Linked DNA regions of Homo sapiens. The protein of the gene in region 1 interacts with the protein of each later gene in a pairwise test. Each region holds a gene or a part of one and is shown in the gene's direction. Other genes may lie near its edges.

Region 1 (3,500 bases):
CACAGCCGTTTGTCTCTTCCCACAGTTGGCAACCCTCACTTTTGCAAGGTAAGTTCTGCATTAGCACCATGATTGGAGTGAGTTTTGCAGATAGGTCAGGTGAAAATCAAATGTATCGAAGAGGGAAGCTGGTAACTGGCTGTAGCTGGGTTGAGTGTGGTATTGCTGCATGACAAATTCCCCCAAACCTAATGGCTTCAAATAATGATCACTTTATTCTCTCTCATGGTTACAGGAGTTTGGGGAGGGTTAAGGTAGGTGCTTGTGGATCAGAGTCTCATGTGGTTACAGGCCAGATGATCAGAGGGTTAGGGTAGGTCTGGACTTGTGGGGCCTCTTTGTGTCTCTGTCTCTGTTTGTCTTCCCTCCTCCTCTCCTTATTTCCCCCCTGTCCATAGTCTCAGTGCTCTTCCATGTGGTCCCTGTGCCAGTATAGGCTTCCTCACACTACCATGACCTCAGGACTCCCAAGCACAGTTCTGCAGAAACATGGTGCAAGTTGCATCTCCTTTGTTGCCCAAGCCTCACTTTTGTTGGCTGCTTCCCTGTGGGCTTGTTACGTGCTGGCTCTGTTGCTAGACAGGTCAGACTCCCTGCAAGGTGGGGCCCCTCCTCACACCTCTCTCTCCTTCCCCTTGACCCTTCAGGTGGAAGTGCAGTAACATCTCTATCCCTGTGGTTTCCCTTATATGCTGCCCCAAACTTCATAAACATTTTAATATTGCTTTGAAATGTCTTAATTTGAGTGTGTCCTCTGTTTCGTTTTGGGGCCCTGACAGAAATAATTGGTATTGAAAATGTCTCCAGAAAGGCACCTCAAAATGAGATTTTGGGGTTGGATAATTCCAATATTCAAGGGGTACAGGGACACTGCTTTGCTGCAGAGGTGAGACATGGAGAATCTGTGGCAGGCACTCATGTTATCTGTCACCAGGGGAGTGAGAGCAGGAGGCAAGCATAATGTTGGGAGATCAGTTATATCACAAGTTATAGTTTGACATAGGGATCCAGTTTCCTTTTTTCCATACTGATAATTGAGCAGAATTTAGTGAATAATTCTTCCCTTTCCCAACATTTGCAGCATTGTCTCTTTCATATATCAGAACCCATGTATGTGTGGCTGTGACTCTGGTTTCTGTGTTCTGTTCCACTGGTCAACTTTCGATCTTTATGACAGTACTAAAGCTTAATATTTGGTAATGCAAATTCCTCCACCTTATTCTTCAGGAGTGTTGCAGCTACTTTTGTGTTTCTGCTCATTCATCTAAATTTTAGATCAGACTTGTCAGTTATTTTCAAAAATCCTGTTGAAATTTTTATCGGAATTGCATTGGAACCATGTAGATATCTCTTATGATATTGAGTATTCTATCTGTGAACACGGGCTTTCTCTCCAATTATTTAGGTCTTCTTTAATGCCTTTGAATAGACTTTTTATTATTTTTCCGTATAGATCTTGTACATCTGTGATTCAGTTTTATTCCTGGATACCTTATAACTTTAGTTGCTCTTGTGGATGATACGATTTTTAAAACTACACATTCTGATTCATGCTAGTGTGTTGAAATACAGTTGATATTTTATGTTGCTCTTTCAGCCAGCCACCTTGTTAAAAAAGTCTTGTCTGGGATTCTTTTGGGTTTTGTCTATAAAATCTTTTTATGCCATCTGTGAACAGTGAAATTTTTCCTTCACGTCTTTATGAATGTAGTTGCTTTTTCTTACCAAGCTGTAGATCATTTCCAGCACTTTTTGCAGCTTTCAGAGCCCAGCAGCAACGCTTGCCAGTTTTCAGTTTATTCGGCTCCCTCTACTTGTTGTGCTGCAATGGAAGTAGGATGTTGAGCTTTGTCAGTAGAGGGCGCTGGAGGGACCTTGCAGCGGGAGAGGCTGCTTTTCCCAGTTCTGGTGTTGCTTTGCCCCTGCAGTGCAGTCCCCCAGTAATGCCAAGGAGAGCAGGAAGTCACCTCGCAATCCTGGCCTGGGCCACCCAGGGGACTTCACCACCACCATTACTACTTTTGCCCCCTTGTGAAAAATCAGTTTGTTGTAGTTGTCCACGTCCGTTTCTGTACTTTTTATTCTGTTCTGTTGGTCTGTGTGTCTATCTCTTCTTCAGTATGACACACTGTCTTGACTACTGTAGCATTATAGTAAATCTTAAATCAGGTAGTGTGATTTCCCCAACTCTGTTCTTTTTCAGATTCATTTTGGTGATTCCAGTTCCTTTGCCTTTCCATATAAATCTTAGAACCGGCTTATTTATGTATCTATAAGAAATCCTACTGGGATTTGTGATTTGGGATTGCAGTAAATCTATGGATAATTTGGAGAGAACTGGGCATCATTTCTGTGTTGAGTATTCCATTCCATGTACATGATGTGTCTCTCCATTTATTTAGGTTGTCTTTGAGTTCTTTCTTCAGCATTTTGTAGTTCTCAGTATACAGATCCTGTATGTTTTATTTGATTTGTACCTAATATTTAATTATTTTTTGCACCCATTGTTGTAAATCATTTAAACATTTTTCATTTCCAGTTCAAATTGCTAGCATATAGAAATTCAGTTGGTTTTGTGTGAATTTGTGTCCTGTGACCCTGCTAAACTCACTTTTTTAGTCTAGGAGTTTTTGTTTTTTGTTGAAGTCTATGAAATTTTCTATGTAGACAAAGATGTCTATGATTGGAGACAGTTTGACCTCTTCCTTGTGAATCAGGATGCCTCCTAATTCTTTTTCTTGCCTTGTTGTGCTGACTCTGAATTCACTTCTGGTACGATATTTAATAGGAGTGGAGACGGCGGACAGCTTTGCCTTGTTCCCTGCATTCGTTCTTTCACCATTCTGTACAGTGTTAGCTGCAGGGTTTTTTATGTAGATGTTCTTTATCAAGTTGAGGAAGTTCCCCTCTATTGCTCTTTCTCTGAGAGTTTTATCATGAATTTGCGTTGAATTTTGTCAGATGTTTCTTGAGTCCTGCCTTGAGGTTAGGCCAGGCGATACTGCAGGAAAAGCAGGAAACACGCCACCAGTTTGGTGGTGCTTTGAATTCTGGTCTTCTCCAATCTGCACGTCGCTGTTTTTATGTAAGAGCCTTCAAATAGCTAGTCCATGTATTCTCTCAGTTTAATAGCAGGATTTTGTGGGATAAACAGGGTGGAGTAAATGAACCAGAGCCTTCTTTTAGATACAAATGTTGATACTCAACTATGTGGTTGCTGTAAGTAATTTGTTCTTTTTAGTACTAAGTAATATTCTATTGTGTAAATATGATACAATTTGTTTATCCATTCATGTGTTGATAGACTTTTGTGTATTTCCAGTTATAGACTCATAAATAAAGGTACTATGGCTTGATTACTTGTGAAGTTGAACTTTTTCCTTTTTGTGGACACTTTCCTCTGAATTGCCCTTACCCATTTTTAAAGTGAACTTTCTTACTGATCTCTATAAGAAGTTCACTTTTTTGAGTATCAATGTTTTGTTTATGATACACATCAC
Region 2 (3,500 bases), on another chromosome or scaffold:
TCCTGTGTTCTTCATAAGGTTCATAGTGCAGGGCCTGGCACATAGTAAACACCCAGCGAGTATTGGCCACTATCATTATTTACCTTCTTTGGGCTGTAGTTTTCTCATCTGGAAAGTGGAGTTTATGGTGGGTTCTGCTCTGCTTGCCGCTTAGGGCTGTTAATTTGCATGAAAGTATCATAAGTCCATTTCATTTTTATACATTAGCCACAGCAGAACGGGATCTCTCCGCGCATGTTTAAGGCCTTTGTAAGCAAGAGCCACCCGGAATTCTCCTCTAACAGGCAGCAAGATGCCCAGGAATTCTTCTTGCACCTGGTGAATCTAGTAGAGGTGAGTAGTCAGTCTTCACGGATGCTCAGCGGGGTTGTAAGAGGGTGCCGAGCCACTCAGTGCAGTCTGCTGTGGCTTGATCAGAATGCCTCCCCACTCTCTTTCTTCAATCTCTCCTGTTAAAGCTGGTTCAGAATCAGATCCCTGGAAACTCTCTGCTCAGCCAACTTGATGTGACTGCTCTTCACACTCCAGTTTCCAGACACTTGTGGATCTCTGTGCTTCTTTTAACCTGTATGTGTTATAGGAGTGCTTGCCAGTTATTCCATTCACAATTTATTTTTTTCTGGTCTTTGTGACAAAGTTCCTTAAGAGCCCTGCGTGGTATTTGGTGTCCTCCTGCCACTGCTCAAAGATGATGAGTCTGCTTACATCAGAATCGAATGCCATTAAAAACTTTTTTTTTTTTTTTGAGACTGAGTCTAGCTCTGTTGCCCAGGCTAGAGTGCAGTGGCACAATCTTGGCTCACTGCAACCTCTGCCTCCTGGGTTCAAGCAATTCTACTGCCTCAGCCTCCTGAGTAGCTGGGATTATAGGAGCCTGCCACCACGCCCGGCTAATTTTTGTATTTTTAGTAGAGATGGGGTTTCACCATGTTGGTCAGGCTGGTTTTGAACTCCTGACCTTGTGATCCACCCGCCTCGGCCTCCCAAAGTGCTGGGATTACAGGTGTGAGCTGGAAAGCCACTGAGAATTCCTGAGTAAAGCCTTTTTTTTTTTTCCTGGTTACAACAGTGTTCTTTGTGGAAAATATAGAAAACACAAAGGAGAACATCAAAATCCCCCTTAATGCCACGCCCTGCAGCCAGCCAGTGTTTTTTGTTTGTTTGTTTGTTTGTTTGTTTTTGTTTGTTTGTTTTTGACAGAGTCTTGCTCTTGTCGCCCAGGCTGGAGTGCAGTGGCACGATCTTGGCCCACTGCAACCTCCGCCTTGCAGGTTCAAGTGATTCTTCTGTTGTTTGTTTCCTTGTTAGAACTAGGCTGCAGTGGTTTCTCTTGTCTGCCTCAGGGTTACTGATTCACATGTCTGCTCAGGTCCATGATCTTTTCTAACTCTGTTTATCATTTATTAGTGATAACTTTTTTTTTTTAGAATAAAGCCTCCCGAGTAGCTGGGATTATAGGCACCCACTACCATGCCTGGCTAATTTTTTTGTATTTTTAGTAGAGACGGGGTTTCACCATGTTGGCCAGGCTGGTCTCGAACTCCTGACCTCAGATGATCCACCCGCCTCCGCCTCCCAAAGTGCTGGGATTACAGGCATGAGCCACTGTGCCCGGCCAACAGCCAGTGTTCACAGGTTGGCATCTGCCCCTCCCATCACTTTCCAGGTCTTATGTTAATTCTCTACATGCTCTTCTGTAAGCAGTGTTTTCACTTAAATGTTTGCCACATCATCACATCTGTTAACAGAGCATAATTTCTGTTTTATTTGTACCTAATTTACATGAGTGTATTTATATAATCATATTGTACATGTTTTTATGTTTCCAGGGCAGCCCTTTATTTTTTTCCCTTTCTCTTTTGATTGGCTTCTCCTCCTCCTTTCTTCTCATTCCATGAATTTCTCTCCCATGGTTTTTAATTTAATAATATTGAAATAGTAATCCATGATGAACTATATTTTATTTTACCAATCCCCATTTTTGGACTTTAGATAAATTCCAGTGTTTTTCTATTAAAGTGCTTTGGTGAATGGGCATGGCCAGAGGAAATGTTTAATAAAGCCAAGTGTTTACACCGGGTTTAGAGTTCATTTTCTACTAAGTCTTAGTGGCTCAATATTCATACATTTACTAACCTGATACAATCCATCCTTCAGAGGAACCGCATCGGCTCAGAAAACCCAAGCGATGTTTTTCGTTTTTTGGTGGAAGAACGCATTCAGTGCTGTCAGACCCGGAAAGTCCGCTACACGGAGAGGGTGGATTACCTGATGCAGTTACCTGTGGCCATGGAGGCGGCAACCAACAAGGGTAACAATTCCAAAGCGGGAAATTGGTACTGTGTGTCTTCATATGGGAAAACCCTCAAATCAGAGAGAATGGTTTAGTCACTGAAGTGTGTCAGGAGTAGACCCAGCCCAGGTGATGTCTGCTTTGCACATCTCTTTTCATCTCTTTGTTAGTTCCCATGTGACTTTTCCTTTGAGAAGAATCAAATGCATCACAGGTTTTATGGAGGCGTTATGGTTGGAACCTACGTCACTGCCTATAAATTTGGCCAACTACTGAATATGGAGTCAGCATAATTTTGGGGAAAATTATTGGTAATGATGTATGTAGAAAATTCTTTAACACTGTCATTTATAAGTTGTGCTATAAAGTCTGAGGGAAATGATCAGGACTGCATTTTTTAAAGTTAGACATTCGAGCAGAGGTCTCTTGAAATAATCCAGCTTTGGCACATGAGTATTTGAGCCACCTCTTCTGGGAGATAAATTGTGTCAGGGTTCTTTGTAGAAGCAAAGCCCATTAGAAGGGTCTCTGGGCTTTGGAAGAGAGAAGGAGGCAGAGATGTGGCACTCATGTTTGGTGCCTTCTCCTTCCATCAGTCTAAGCTGGTTCTTCCTAGGCAGAATAGACAAATGGCATTTCTTCGAATTAACATCGTAGAAGCAAAAAAGACAAAATAGCTGCTGGATTGTGCATCTCCTGTGAACTAGTCATTTTTGTAAAGTTCAGCAATTCCACTATGCAGCCATGAAAAGGAATGAGATCATGTCCTTTGCACATGGATGAAGCTGGAAGCCCTCATCCTCAGCAAACTAACACAGGAACAGAAACCAAACACCGCATATTCTCACTCATAAGTGCGAGTTGAACATTGAGAACATATGGACACAGGGAGGGGAACATCACACACTGAGGCCTGTTGGTGGGTGGGGGGAAAGGGGAGAGAACTTAGAGGACAGGTCAGTAGGTGCAGCAAACCGCCACGGCACACATATACTTATGTAACAGACCTGCACGTTCTACACATGTATCCTGGAGTTTTTTTGTTTTTTGTTTTTTTTTTTGAGAATAAAGAAAAAAAAATTCAGCGGTTCCCTGGATGGCCCTTTTTGCTCTTTCTTGTGTGTGGGGGGTGGTGGGTCAGTTTATGATGTTAGTTGGAAAGTGATGATTATGATGATTTAAGATGAAACGATTTTCATTTTCTATA
Region 3 (3,500 bases), on another chromosome or scaffold:
TCTAAAGACTTGACTTTATTCAAAAGAGAGGGTAAGACCAAGACTTGGGTACAGGCAGTTTGAGAGGTGATTCCAGGAAGCAGCAGAATACAGGGGAGAGAGAGACCAGAAGCAGCAGAAGTAAGACAGGGCATGTTATTGATCTTTTTACACCTGTGGGCAACTGGATTTGTTCTGTTAAGGACCAGGAACCATGTAGGGACTCCTATACCCCATTGGATAAGGGTTGCATGAACTCCCTTGCATTTCCATGTTGAGTCTTGAGTGCTTGTTGAGACAGTGGCAGCAAACAGGGAACCCTCTGATACTTTTCAAACATAGCTGCCCCGAAATCAGAGGTAGCGTAATGTGGGGCACACACACACAAAAAGCATGTTTCAGTGACCTTTAAAGTGTCAGTATGACCTTTTGGATTTAAATAATTTGAAATATTTTAATCCATGATAATGAGTGATGATGTTACTGATGCTCAAATATTCCTATTTTTGCTAATGGTGGAACTTCTTAAAGTTGGATCCTGAATTCTTTAGGCAAATTAAAAAGCCCTATGACTTTATAGCTCCTTTACATGACAAGATGTTTCAGGTCAAGCATTGCACAAAATATCAACCAAGCAAAAGATCGTTCTTTTCTCTTGCTTCTGACTCCCTTGTATGGCAGAGGGACAAGAAGATAGGGGCTGTGGAAGCTGATGCTGGTGTTCACTACCTAAGAATTGCCAGGAACACATCTTGGCTTTAAGGAAGAACAATTTCATATGGAAACAGTGAAGTTACTTGTTCAAAGATACATAGTACAGTTATTCTAAACTTTTTTTTGGCTTCCTGAACATGCCTTGATCTAATTGGAAAATGCTTAGTAGTGACCCCAGTGGTTTTCCAGATAACTTTTCTGAATATCTTCACTCATCTCCCCTACCACTGTCCTAGGACAGTTCTCTTCATTCAGTAAGGCCTAGAGTTGGCCCTGGTGGTATTTGACATAAGGTAAGTGTATTGATTTATTTAGGAAGCCTAGAGTATTAGTTAGATGTCAGTGGAAAAGGAGCATATCATCTTCCTATCTCAGTCTTTTTGTATAAAGTACAGTCAACTTAAACATTAAGACCAGAGAAGAAAGGCTTAAAAAAATAGGAACATGTAGCCTTGAGCAGAAGAAATTTGGGGAAATGCTACTCATTTTGTTTGATCATGGTTTGGGAACTTTTATTGTATGTGATCCACAGATCTCTTAGCTTGTGCTATTCAGGCCACTTTCTCTGTGACTGTTAATGTATCTGGTTTTCATGACAGTTTAAGGAACCTCCAAAGCCTGGGACAATTGCCTCAATTCATTGTACCCTAGGGATGGCTCTGATATATAATTATTCTAACTGGAATACTGGTTAGGTGCCAATGAGTAACACAGTGGGAAATAACATAGGCTTTTATAATTAGATAAGAGTTGAATAGATACAGTTAAATCTTGGCTTCACAACTTGGCTGAGTAATCTTGGGAAAGATACTTAGCCTCTCTTAGCATGTGATTCTGTGTAAATTGAGGATGATGCTAATACCTCCTTTTGGCAGCTTCTGCTTTTATCTCACTTTCCCCTTATATCTGTTTTCAGCAATTTTAAATTCCCCAGCTCTCAGATACAACTCCAACAGCAAAAGTAGATTTCTGAATGTATTGTGGAGAGATTTATACAAGAATTGTATAACCCTTAGACTTTTTTTTTGTTCTGTGTCAGAATTTTTCCTTCCCGGGTAGCAACTTCCCTCTCTAATTCTCTTCATCCCTTTAAATTCTCTAAAATATACATATATATTATATATATATTTTTATATTTGTTTCCTCGAGTAATTTGGCTTTGCCCATCTGGCAAAACTTCACTTAGACTGCTCTTCTGGTATTCCTGAAGCATGCACCTTGGCATACGGGGAGGTTTGAGGTTGGGGCTGGAAGGAGGAGCAAGAAGCATCTTGTCAAATGCCTCACAGCTTATATTTGAATTTTTAATGTAAACAGGTCTACAACAGGATTCTAGACTGTTTAACTTACTGATCATATATATATATATATATATATATATATATATATATATATAATTTTTTTTTTTTTTTGGGAGACAGAGTCTCACTCTGTTGCCCAGGCTGGAGTGCAGTGGCATAGTCTCGGCTCACTGCAAGCTCTGCCTCCCAGGTTCACGCCATTCTCCTGCCTCAGCCTCCCGAGTAGCTGGGACTACAGGCGCCCGCCACCACGCCTGGCTAATTTTTTGTATTTTTAGTAGAGACGGGATTTCACTGTGCTAGCCAGGATGGTCTTGATCTCCTGACCTCATGATCCGCCTGCCTTGGCCTCCCAAAGTGCTGCGATTACAGGCGTGAGCCACTGTGCCCAGCCTATATATATATTTTTAAAAAACCAGCTTTTAGGCTGGGCATGGTGGCTGATGCCTGTAATCCCAGCACTTTGGGAGGCCAGAGCAGGTGGATCACCTGAGGTCGGGAGTTCAAGACTAGCCTGGAGAAACCCTGCCTCTACTAAAAATACAAAATTAGCCAGGCATGGTGGCGCATGCCTGTAATCTCAGCTACTCAGGAGGCTGAGGCAGGAGAATCACTTGAACCTGGGAGGCAGAGGTTGTGGTGAGCCGAGATTGCGCCATTGCACTCCAGCCTAGGCAACAAGAGCAAAACTCTGTCTTAAAAAACAAACAAACAAAAAAAAGCTTTTATTAAAGATACTAATTAAAATCGGACTTCATTATGTTTTAAGTATCTCAAGCTATAAATCCTGTGACTACATATTTTATCTCGAATGGTTGACTGGTTTACTGCTTGTTATTTTATATGCATTAAAGCATTTATTTACTAGTGTATCTGTTAGATAAGTCCTGGTAAAGAGGACAGAAAGTAGTATGCTTCTCCCAACAGTTTATACTATACTGGGGAGTAAACATGTAAAGAAATGAAGCCATGGAATACATATTAAAGTTGTATTCATTTGTAATTTCAGTATCCATATATTCCTGCACATATTACAAAGCCTAAGGAACATAAGAAGTTGTTTCTGGTTCAGCTTCAAGAAAAAGGTAAGTTATTTTGTTTTCAAAGGTAGCCATCTAAAAATTCTGTAGAATAATTTCAAGGATACCTCTATTTGTGTTTTCTCAAAGTTCCTTGAACTTTTGGGTTTGTTGTAAAACTAAAGATGTATACCATGCTTTTAGTTTCAAATCTGTGGCTAGGAAATCTACCTTGAAAGACACAACCAAAATGTATTAATGAGAATTATCTTTTTTCTTACACTTTTTATTAAATGTAAAATTGGTAATTTAAAAATGAAATGGAAGCAGTGATTATATAATAACTTATAATAATGAATTCTGTTTTATTTTAGCCTTGTTTGCAGTCCCTAAAAATTACAAGCTGGTAGCTGCACCATTGTTTGAATTGTATGACAATGCACCAGGATATGGACCCATCATTTCTAGTCTCCCTCAGCTGTTGAGC
Region 4 (4,265 bases), on another chromosome or scaffold:
TCACTTCCAAAGTGGCCAGCTCATCTCACCAGTTATCTTTCTTAATGCCTTATGTTATCTTCCCAACATAAAATGATGCTTGTTACATACAATATAATGAGCTCATTATAATGAAATTAATGACTGTGTATAAGTGAATTTTATAATATTGTAAATGTGTTTTCTTCAAATATTCTTTATCCTGACGATAGAACCAGAACAGAAAAATTAATACTCCCCTCCCTTTTATCAGCTTTACCTAATACCATCAGAAGCTTCACTAAGTAAATGCTTTTTTGTCCTTTTAAAGGAAAGTATTGTCCTTCCAGGGGTAAAATCCAAGGAGGCTTAAGTTAAACTGGGTACTCTATAAATAAGCCACACTTGTTATATAAACTTTTGAAAGCTTATATTTTACTAACTTCTCTATCCTTATAAATGATTAGTCATCTAGTTCCTTGAGTTTTGTTTGTGTTTTAAACTTTAATCTCAATTAAAGCTAAAACTGTTATCTCTCCAGAGATACTGCCAAAATGTGAAAGATCATTACCTAAGAAGTACACATTATTGGTCTATCCAAATAGACTTTTATTTTACCTTGAGCAGTTTTTCCTCTGATACTGTGACCTTGGTATCAGTATGTTTACAAATTATGTCATATTTGTATACAATTAAACATTTATTTATTTATGATTGGTTTTAATTAAACTTTATTTTTTCCTAATATGCAAAATATGCAAAAATCAAAGTTTGATATACTAGTTATATTCTTAATAAATATGAAAATAATATTAAAAACCATGCACCCCTTAAAATCATCCTATGTATTGCCAGTCGATGTCTAGCACACACCTTGGAAAATATTAACATGGAAATTTCCTGCCATGGAAATAAGGGATGAGAATTGGAGTGGGAAAATGTGAAGATAGCCTCTTATAACTTTCCCTCCTATCAGATATGTGCAAAATAATTAAACAAAAATTATTTGTTTACTTTGCCCTGCTTCCTGCAGAAAAGAAGAGAACTCTTAAAATATTTTGATCAGATGAATTTTATAGTCAAGGACTATCCAAAGCATGGAGTAAGATACAACTCTATGTGATGAATTTCTATGTGAGTTTCTATATGATAAATTAATACGCCAAATGAAACAGTTTATTGAAACATGCAACTTTTTTAAAATAAACAAACATCCTCCAGAACCAAAGACTGATGCTGTTAATGCTTTAGACATGTGACATATGTGTGTGTACCTCTGTATGTTTAATTTTCTTTCTTTCTAATCAAGTGACCTGTTCTCGTTTGGTTAAGTTTCAACCACAAGACACCACTGTATGCTTTTTTTTTTTCAAGATACACGTCACAGCACACCAAGAAAAGGGGAACTTCCAGTGTCTGTGGTAACATCACTTGATAAACAGACTCCTTTAAACAGCAAGTGCCTGTCTGCATTCTACTATATAAAGCAGCAGAGACGTTGACTAGCGCATATTTGCTAAGAGCACCATGCGCGCAGCAGCCATCTCCACTCCAAAGTTAGACAAAATGCCAGGAATGTTCTTCTCTGCTAACCCAAAGGAATTGAAAGGAACCACTCATTCACTTCTAGACGACAAAATGCAAAAAAGGAGGCCAAAGACTTTGTAAGTTTGTTCAGAGTCTCACTTTGTGAATTTTAACAAGTTATCTTTAATGGCAGAAGGATTGAGAATGAATGGAAGAGAGTGTGAGCATTTAGTTTAGCCAGATCAGAGGAGTTAATTGCCTGTTGTGAGTAATAAGTAATATTCAGCTGCATTAAAAAATAAATCTTGATATGGCATTAAATTGGGTAGGAGTTTTTCTCTACACAGGCTCATAAAAATGGGTTCTATAGCAAAATGTTGTATCAACCATTTTTAGTATTGCCTTATTCCTTAGAGAAATTTATTCTATGTCTTTTTACAAATAAAATGAATTCTGAAGAAATATGAATATTCACTTTTATGTCTTTTGTAGTGGAATGGATATGAAAGCATACCTGAGATCTATGATCCCACATCTGGAATCTGGAATGAAATCTTCCAAGTCCAAGGATGTGTAAGTACACTAATACACTAAACTATCATTATCATTTACAAGAGAAGCCTATGCATTATCTCTATATCCCAGCAAGGGATAAATACTGCGCACAGTAGACTTCATTTCTTTTAAGTAACATGCCAAATAAAATTAGACTATCAGTACCAATGTAAATTGAATACAAATGTGTACACACACATATTGGACTTTATCTATTTGGATTTTTTCAAATTTTATTGGCAGGTTTTTTTTTTCATAACTATAGTAACTCTAAGGGAAGTTTTGCATTTTGTGAATAAATTTTAACATATTTATTAGAACTACAGTTTCAGTTTGTGAAGTTATCAAAGTGTAACAGCCATTCTTATTTCATTTGTGCTTACATTTTAAAAATTGACTAATGTATGTACATTTTGTCCCCTGCAGACTTTCTGCTGCTGAAGTAATGCAATGGTCTCAATCTCTGGAAAAACTTCTTGCCAACCAAAGTAAGTATAACTATTGAATGTTTCTGGGTTCAGCTAAATACTCTAAAAAATTGAATGGCTTCACTAAATATAGTATTCTGGGTAGGATAGTATGCAAAAGGTTGTATTCTAGTTTGTCTGTAGTTACTGATAACTTCAGCATAGTATGCCTCTTAATAATGCTGACTTAGCACTCAATTCTGCCAACTCCTTTTAGACAAATTTGCCAAGACAATTAGGTATTTTCATAGATCATTATGGAGATAAAATTAAACATTGTGCTGGGATTCTGATATGTAAAAATTTTAAAAGTAAGCCAAATATTTTAATATGTACATTGCCATTTTGAAATCTGCCTAAAGAATGTATTTTTCTACACTTGGATGTAACAAGTATGATTCATTCATTCAATTAATTAAATTATCTTTCATACATTCATCATTCATCTCACCCTTATGTAGAGGACATTGTAGAGGTACCAAGGATTCAAAATCAAAGACAGTCTCTTACTGCCTTGAAGGTGGTTGAGATACATAACATAAATAATTGCATTATTATAACATGATAGTTTTTATGACATAAATATGATAGAAGGATTTTTAAGCACATATAGTCTTGTGGAGATTTTCTGATGAGAGAAGGTAAAGAATGAAATCAGCTTGCCATCCCCTTGTCTTGGGCATTACAATTCTACTGAGATTAGGACCTTTTTCAGAGGTGTAGATGAGCAGTGTGGTCTCTATCTCTAAAGAGTGAGATTATTCTTTTCTCCCCACAGACACCCTAAGGAGCTTTACTTGGGAATCACATTGTTCACTCTAGCTCAGCTGACTTTGTTTATAATTCAGCTAAACAAATAAATGGTATAGATATGGACCATAAATGGTGCCATATAAAAGTCTCAGTGAATGCTAGCAAACATAATTAGTACATCAGGCCTACAGATCATATATAGGCCTAACATTTTCTGGCTAATATAAATTAGATGGGGAAATTATATTTACTAATTATTGTGATGTTAATGCCTTTTGTCAGTGTTTGCTTTCCTAAAATACTCTCTACTCTGGCTAAGATTTGGCATATATAAAAGATGGTTTTATATTCAGTGGAGCAGAATTTCAATTCAAACCGCGGATAGAAGCAAAACAGTTTGGTAGCCACCATCAAGTAGCAATGTGACTATGAATGAGTTTGTCTGGCCCCAGATTCCTCTTCTATGAATGAAGAAATTTCAAATGACTTCTCATCTCTACAATCTATAACACAGCTATTTCAGCAGTAGCTGTCTCTTACCTTTGTATGAATAGGAAGCAATTGTATTTTTCTTACAAATTTCTTCTTCAAATTATTCATTTGTTGGTTCATTTAATTTAATTATCTCCCCACCCACCCCTCGTTTCTTTTTAGCTGGTCAAAATGTCTTTGGAAGTTTCCTAAAGTCTGAATTCAGTGAGGAGAATATTGAGTTCTGGCTGGCTTGTGAAGACTATAAGAAAACAGAGTCTGATCTTTTGCCCTGTAAAGCAGAAGAGATATATAAAGCATTTGTGCATTCAGATGCTGCTAAACAAGTGAGTATTAAGCTTATCATCATCAGTTTCTCCATAAAAGACCCTATATGCAGAAATAACATTTAATATATACAACAAGATAAAATCCTTTTGGGGTATATAATTTTACTTCTACATACTTAGGCATATAAATATAGTTCAGTGCAATGAGAATCTAATTTTCTATATTGGTGAGGGTTTCAGCACA
Region 5 (3,500 bases), on another chromosome or scaffold:
AAACAAATGTTCTCAGAAGTGACAGTCAAGGTGAGGGACAGGGATAGTACTTTAATATTTAAGACAGGGTTTTATTGATTTCAGTCGAGAGAAAGAATAGAAATTTGCTAATCCTAATCAATTAGATGTATCACCTGGTGCGGTGCCTGACTTGGTTTCTGGCATGTATTAATAGTTAGGGCCCGATATTTTATTTGTTGAATCAGATGAATATGAAATGGAAAGGAAAATTCTGCTTTTTTTCACCAGTTTTTAAACTGAGACAAGATAAAATCTGTTTGGATTAGGTGTTTTGTTCAGGGGAATGCAGAATGTATCCTTTACTCTTAACTTGAAGATGATCAAGATATAATCCTTTTAGCCAGGGTGGCAATTTAAACATAAAAATCTCTGTTTTCCAGTTGATGAGTGAATCTTCCTAGAAGGGCACACAACTTTTCCCCTTTCCATGATGGGGTTTAAAGGCCATGTTTACATCTGCCAAGTCTCTGGGTAAACATTTAGCTGCTGTCCCAACAGGCAGTACCAGCATCTTACTCTTTCTTCTCATAGGTAGAACTAGTAACACAATGTGCAGAGCTTTTTGGATAAGGTAGGAGAAAATAGTCAGGTTAAAATGAAAGAGAAAAACACATTTCTCGAGTTTTCCTGGGAGGTTGGACAAGATCAACTTCTAGATTCCTTTCAGTTCAAAATTTTCTGTCTTGACTCATGTGATGATTGATCTGGAATTAACCTTTTTTCCCTCTGCGCCATCAAAACAACAGTGGTAGAATTGGTTGTACTCTGTGTAATACCTATGATGATTAAATGAGATAGTGGAGGGAAAGCCATTTGTAAACAGTACGTTGCTTTTCAAATATAAAATGTTAACGTATTGTGTGGCTGGGCGAGGTGGCTCACGCCCGTAATCCCAGGACTTTGGGAGGGCAAGACAGGCGGATCACTTGAGGTCAGGAGTTTGAGACCAGCCTGGCTGACATGGAGAAACCCCATCTCCACTTAAAATAGAAAAATTAGCTGGGTGTCGTGGCGCATGCCTGTAATCTCAGCTACTTGGGAGGCTGAGGCAGGAGAATCGCTTGAACCCAGGAGGCAGAGGTTGCAGTGAGATCGCACAACTGCACTCCAGCCTGGGCGACAGAGTGAGACTCCGTCTCAAGACAAAAAAAAAAAAAAAAAGTTAACGTATTGTGATTATGTTGCTGATGTTACTTTTATACCTCCTGTAGAATGACTGTTACTGCTTAGTGGTATTGAAATACCTTTTAAACTAGTCTCAATTTATGGAAATACTGGGAGTTGTAATCAACAAGCAGGAAGTCACAAGACTCTTTTAAGAATCTTTTAAAAGCTACGAAAATAAAACCCATTTGAATAATTTATCTATTCAACAAATATTTATGGAGCCCTTACTTTCTGCATGGCCCTGAAAGTCATGCGGGATGAACCCTCAGCTGTAATATCCTCCTTGACTGCAGGACTGGCAGTCGTGTGGCTCTAGAGGAACCTGTGGCAGGACAGGTTAAGTAAGGCACATAGGGGAGGGGGTAGCTTCTGATGTGCTTCTTTGCTTTCTAGTACATTTCTCTCATTTTGTGTGTTTTATTGTGAACTAAAATATAAACTTAGACTTGAAAATGTGACAAGTAAAAATGGTTGATTAGTCTTGGATGCTAATTGTCAATTAATATTCATTGCATTTGTTTATAGTAGCCTCCACCCTCCCATCCACGGTTTTACTTTTCAAGGTTTCAGTTAACCATGGTCCACCGAGGTCTCAAAATAAGTGAGTAAAGTACAATAAGATATTTTAAGAGAGAGAGAGACCACATTCATATAACTTTTATTACTGTATATTGTTATCATTGTTCACTTTTATTATTAGTTATTATTAATCACTTACTATGCCTAATTTACACATTAAACTTTATCATAGGTGTGTGTGTATAGGAAAAAATATAGTGTGCTCTGTGCTATGTTAGTTAGTTCTATGATAGCTCAGTACTATCTGTGGTTTTAGGTATCCACTGGGACTTGGAATATATCCCCCATGGATGAGGGGAAACTACTGTACCGTGTTGGGGATTTTTTATTTATTTATTTTTTTTTTGTGACAGAGTTTTGCTCTTGTCATGCAGGCTGGAGTGCAATGGGGTGATTCTCCTGTCTCAGCCTCCTAAGTAGCTGGGATTACAGGTGCCCACCACCATGCCCAGCTAATTTTTGTATGTTTAGTAGAGACGGGGTTTCACCATGTTGGCCAGGCTGGTCTCAAACTCCTGACCTCAGGTGATCCACCTGCCTCGACCTCCCAAAGTGCTGGGATTACAGGAGTGAGCCACCGTGCCCTGCCAGTGTTTGGGATTTAATAAGATTAGATTTGATAGGTTAGTTTAATAAGATTTCTTTGTATAGACTGGTGGACTTGACCTATTTAGTTTCTTGGTTATAGGCTGTATCTGCCATCATAAAAATGTATGTCTCAGTGGGGAAGATGTGGTGAGAGAATTGGGTTGATCATCACAAATCTGTCACCATTTGCAGGATAAAAACCAGCTAACTAACCAACAATAGAAACCCATGATGTGCTACAAAGGGTAGAGCCCACAGGCACTATGAAATTGTAAAGGATCCTACTTGAAAAGAGGAGTGAAGGTACATTTGTGATTTCATATTATGTTCAGTTATCTGTGAACTGAACTTCTTTATTGATAAAAAAAAAAGTACATTGTTTCGTTGTTTTTAACCCTGAATATCTATGAACATTGTAAGTTGTATTTATTGTGACTAACTTTAAAGTGATAATGTAGGTCACTTTTTAGTCTAAATGTCGAGTGGATTAGGCAGTCATATTAAATATTCCTTTCTTAATAATTTATAAGATAAAAATTATCTGAGCACAATAAACAGATCTACCATATATGGAGTTCATATAGCAAAAATGTTTTGAGCAAATCCGTACCATTAGGTAGGAACTTTTCTACAAAGGTGTTAAGTCTGGTTCCCAAACTTCTGTGGCTCCAGTCTAACAGTATGAGCCCTAGGAGAGGACACATAGGGACCTTGATTCATGCCCTCCAGGGGCTTGCATTCTGAAAGATGCCAAAGCCACATGCTTGTTGGCATGTGGGCAGTGCTCAGGTCGGGGGTGAGAGGAGATAAGTATATGAGTTATAATCAGGAGGGCAAAATCAGTTAACATTTATTGAACACTTACTCTGTGCCAGTGTTCTAAGTGCTTTGCATGTGTAATAGCATTAAACTGAGGCTCAGGGAGGTTGTGTAATTTCCTCAAGTTCACACAGCTAGCAAGTAGTTGAACTGCGCTTGTGGCCCCAGGGCCCTCCCTCTTCATTGCCTTCCACCTACAAGTAGTTCCCTTGTGCTAGGCAGAGGCTCAGGCAGCTTGGTGTTAAGGCAGTTGGGATGCACTCAAAATTTTTAGTATATTGCTTCTTAAGTAAACAGGTACAGAAAAGTGGTCCTTGACCACTACT
Region 6 (3,500 bases), on another chromosome or scaffold:
TTTTAGTTTTAGTATCCTAATAGAAAATGTTTAGGAGAATGTTTAATAGAAAATGCTTTGGTATTTATAATAATTTAAAACTCAGTAGCATGTAGAAGTCAGTAAATCCATGAAAGAGAATCTTTCGTAATTCAGAGAAGAAGTAAATATCTTACTCCAGATCACTGTCCTTAACTGTTTCTTCTCATTTGTGGTATCTCGTAGTAGCAGAATGGACAGACAGCCCAACCTGTAATATTTACCATTATACCCCAGCACATAGAAGAAGACCAAACTTTTAGAAGGGACTCAGCAAAGATTTGGTGAATGAGTAATTGAGCATTCAGAAGCTGTCTCTGCACTTGTAGGGCAAGCATTTTGTACTAGTGATAGAAAAGCAGGAATTGTAGAGTCACAGACCCAGGGTTGACTTCTGGCGCTCTCATTTACTGTGACTTTGAGCCTTGTTGCATAGCCTGTTTCTGCATCTCAGCTTCCTCACTAGTAAAATGGAGTCGTAGTTTCTGCTTCCAAGAGTGTTTGTGAATATTATATAACTGGCTGTAGTGTTTGAATAAAATACTAAGAAACTTTATTCTTTGTTAGAAATAGTAAATGTGGTACTCTTGAATTACTTTAGGTGGCACTCTGACATTTAAATTAGATATTTTTTATCCATGTGGAAGAAATTTTAAACATGAGTTTTGCAGTCATTTTGTAAACACTGATCGTAAGTGCTAATTCCCTTTTCTTCATTGGCTGTGAGTAGTTTGTTTGAGGAGCAGATTGGAGAGGAGTATATAAGATAAACTGGTTTTCTGCATTTGAAAAACATTGGTGATGATCTGAGGATCAAACTATTATATTATGAAGTGATTTTTCTCCCCTTACCTCTTTTCTACATAGCTTGTCTTTAGCTTCAATGAAAAGCTTTTTGGCTTACTGGTGAAGGACATTGAAGCCATGGATCCTAGCATCCTGAAGGGAGAGCCTGCGACAGGGAAAAGGCAGAAGGTAGCTTTTATTTCTGATCATCTTTACTAGATCATCTTTATAATGTAATTTGTGCAGATTGATTATAATTTTCCTATCTGTTGCTTAGTGATTTTTTTCATATTGTGTACCCTTTTAAGATAGTAGGGAGAAAAAATTGCTTTCATAGCCATCATTGTTATTAAAATATAGCTTAAAATGTATTTATTTGCAGACCTAATATTAATGTAAAATGTAGACGTATATGTACATATAATTTGCTTGAATGCAGATATTTATTGTAAATAAATAATAAGAAACGCATTATTGGAAAGATATAGGCATGGAAATAAGGCATGTAAGAATTGTAGAAGAAAGTTATGAGAAAAGTAAAAGTAGCTCAGATGATAGTCTGGAAGGTTTGCTTTGCCCAGAGAGACCTCATTTCCCCCTCACTTTTGGCCTTGCTTTGAGAAGTCCAGAAGTTTGCTATTAGACTACTAATTATTGTCTTTCTCTACAGATTGAAGTAGGACTGGTTGTTGGAAACAGTCAAGTTGCATTTGAAAAAGCAGAAAATTCGTCACTTAATCTTATTGGTAAGATTTACAGTTTTTAGAAGATTTGAAATGAAGTGGGCCTATTTCTATATGTAACTCAACTACAGTGATTTCCAAATGGGGAAAGGAAAGAGGGGCATCTCTCTTGAGAGAGTTTATCACAGAAGCATGGGGTATTTCCTGTTGGTCAGTTTGCTGATGAAAACGTTTAAAACCTTCATCTGGATCAACTTTGTCCAATAGAAATAGAGTGTGAGCCACATGTGTAATTTTTAATTTCCTAGAAATTGCACTAAAATAAGAAACAAATTAATTTTTTAACTTTTAATTTTGAGATAATTTTAGGTTCACAGATTTGCAGAAATAGCTCAGAGAATTTCTGTATGCCCTTTACCAGCTTACCCTGATGTTAATGTCTTATTTGACATTTTCAAAAGTACAATGATAAGAAATGAACATGGTTTCATTTCTGCTAACTAAACTACAGATTTTATTGAGATTTCACCAGTTTTTCCATTGTGTCCTTTTCTGTTCCAAGATCTAATTTAGGATCCCATATTGCATTTAGTTGTTCTGTCTTTTGAGTTTTCTTCAGTCACTGACAGTTCCTCAGACTTTGTCTTTTATGACTTTGAGAACTGGTCAGTTATTTTGTAGAATGCCCCTCACTTGGTTTTGTGTTAAATGAGATAGCATCATCATTTCTTTTAGTGATTAAGTGATGAATGTGCAGGTCAAGTCTTCCCAGCAGATTCATGGTTCAGTCCTACTCTTGTACTCTAGCACAATTTTTGTCATATTAAAACAATTGCAGCTTATTCTCTGAGAATAGTAACTCACCAGAATAATGTGACATTAACTGGGCATTAATTCTTATTTTTGGTTGATTTAACTATGTTGATGTCTACCCTACTAGAGAGTAGAGGGTTTTCATTGGTTGCACATCATCATGTCCAGGGTCACTTAACAGTCTTTGAGTGCGTGGCCTTTATTTCCTGGTCCACAAATTACCATTCCCCCTTATTGTTTTTTGTTAATTATAAAATATTTTATTTATAAAATATGGATAGGCATTCGAAAACAATTCACACACTGTAAAATTTGGTTCTGTTTTCATAGTTTTGTAATTTGCTTTTTTTGCTTAGCATGTTTCAAACATCTTAAATATACACCTATAACATGATTTTTAATGCCTGTATGTCATTTTATGAAGGTAGGATGTATTTTCCTGTTATTGATCTAGTACATTTATGAAGTGACTTCTTTGTATTTTATTTTTGTGTACCTTTTGTTAAGATATCCCAAGGGAGTTGCATAACTTTCATAGGTATTTCTAAGTAATCCATGGGAAAAAAATTGTGTAGTTAATTGGCATTCAGTAAATTTTGCCCACAAGAGGGCAGTAGAGTGTAAGAAAAAAATATTTTTCATCGCTTTCCAAAGGAAATCTTAAGGCCTCAAAACTCTAACCATAAAATTATCATCTAGTATAAACTTTTAAAAAGCGTTACTTTATTTTTAATTGACAGATAATAATTGTATATATTTATAGGGTACAATTTGATATTTTAATACATGTATACATTGTAGAATGATCAAATCAGCCTAATTAACATATCACCTCAAATATTTAGCATTTCTTAGGATAAACTTTTTTTAATGTGACATTTTCTTCCCTGGTTTTATAAAAACCATATTATTACTTTATTTTTTGTTTATAATAGAGCATACTAAGGTACTTAATTTATTCTTTGTTTGAAATAGTAAATGTGGTTCTCTTGAGTTACTTTAGGTGGCACTCTGACATTTAAGTTAGATAATTTTTGTCCTCTTGAGAATTTTTAAACATGAGTTTTGTAATCATTGAAGTCTTTAGGATGATTTCAGACTTTTGTGTCCAAGTGAAGAGAAAGCAAAGAAGACATCAAACTTGTTCAGTATATTTCCTTAGGCTGAGGGGTTATATGCCCAATTACCTGTATAAGCTTA

Evidence for each region.
Region 2: the proteins of FUNDC2 (region 1) and USP13 interact in a two-hybrid assay, tested with the Homo sapiens proteins (one large-scale study listed by BioGRID and IntAct).
Region 3: the proteins of FUNDC2 (region 1) and NUDT21 interact in a two-hybrid assay, tested with the Homo sapiens proteins (one large-scale study listed by BioGRID and IntAct).
Region 4: the proteins of FUNDC2 (region 1) and RGS1 interact in a two-hybrid assay, tested with the Homo sapiens proteins (one large-scale study listed by BioGRID and IntAct).
Region 5: the proteins of FUNDC2 (region 1) and ARL15 interact in a two-hybrid assay, tested with the Homo sapiens proteins (one large-scale study listed by BioGRID and IntAct).
Region 6: the proteins of FUNDC2 (region 1) and NSF interact in a two-hybrid assay, tested with the Homo sapiens proteins (one large-scale study listed by BioGRID and IntAct).

Annotation. Positions count from the first base shown.
Region 1 is NC_000023.11:155,047,344-155,050,843, forward strand, and holds part of FUNDC2 (FUN14 domain-containing protein 2), read left to right. Parts: intron 1-3,500. UniProt on the Homo sapiens protein: Binds directly and specifically 1,2-Diacyl-sn-glycero-3-phospho-(1'-myo-inositol-3',4',5'-bisphosphate) (PIP3) leading to the recruitment of PIP3 to mitochondria and may play a role in the regulation of the platelet activation via AKT/GSK3B/cGMP signaling pathways.
Region 2 is NC_000003.12:179,740,040-179,743,539, forward strand, and holds part of USP13 (ubiquitin carboxyl-terminal hydrolase 13), read left to right. Parts: intron 1-207; coding exon 208-333; intron 334-2,157; coding exon 2,158-2,311; intron 2,312-3,500. UniProt on the Homo sapiens protein: Deubiquitinase that mediates deubiquitination of target proteins such as BECN1, MITF, SKP2 and USP10 and is involved in various processes such as autophagy, endoplasmic reticulum-associated degradation (ERAD), cell cycle progression or DNA damage response.
Region 3 is NC_000016.10:56,434,333-56,437,832, reverse strand, and holds part of NUDT21 (cleavage and polyadenylation specificity factor subunit 5), read left to right. Parts: intron 1-3,003; coding exon 3,004-3,079; intron 3,080-3,387; coding exon 3,388-3,500. UniProt on the Homo sapiens protein: Component of the cleavage factor Im (CFIm) complex that functions as an activator of the pre-mRNA 3'-end cleavage and polyadenylation processing required for the maturation of pre-mRNA into functional mRNAs.
Region 4 is NC_000001.11:192,574,308-192,578,572, forward strand, and holds the start of RGS1 (regulator of G-protein signaling 1), read left to right. Parts: upstream 1-1,465; 5' UTR 1,466-1,485; coding exon 1,486-1,622; intron 1,623-1,977; coding exon 1,978-2,058; intron 2,059-2,466; coding exon 2,467-2,528; intron 2,529-3,914; coding exon 3,915-4,078; intron 4,079-4,265. UniProt on the Homo sapiens protein: Regulates G protein-coupled receptor signaling cascades, including signaling downstream of the N-formylpeptide chemoattractant receptors and leukotriene receptors. Inhibits B cell chemotaxis toward CXCL12.
Region 5 is NC_000005.10:54,304,074-54,307,573, reverse strand, and holds part of ARL15 (ADP-ribosylation factor-like protein 15), read left to right. Parts: intron 1-3,500.
Region 6 is NC_000017.11:46,639,169-46,642,668, forward strand, and holds part of NSF (vesicle-fusing ATPase), read left to right. Parts: intron 1-885; coding exon 886-993; intron 994-1,474; coding exon 1,475-1,550; intron 1,551-3,500.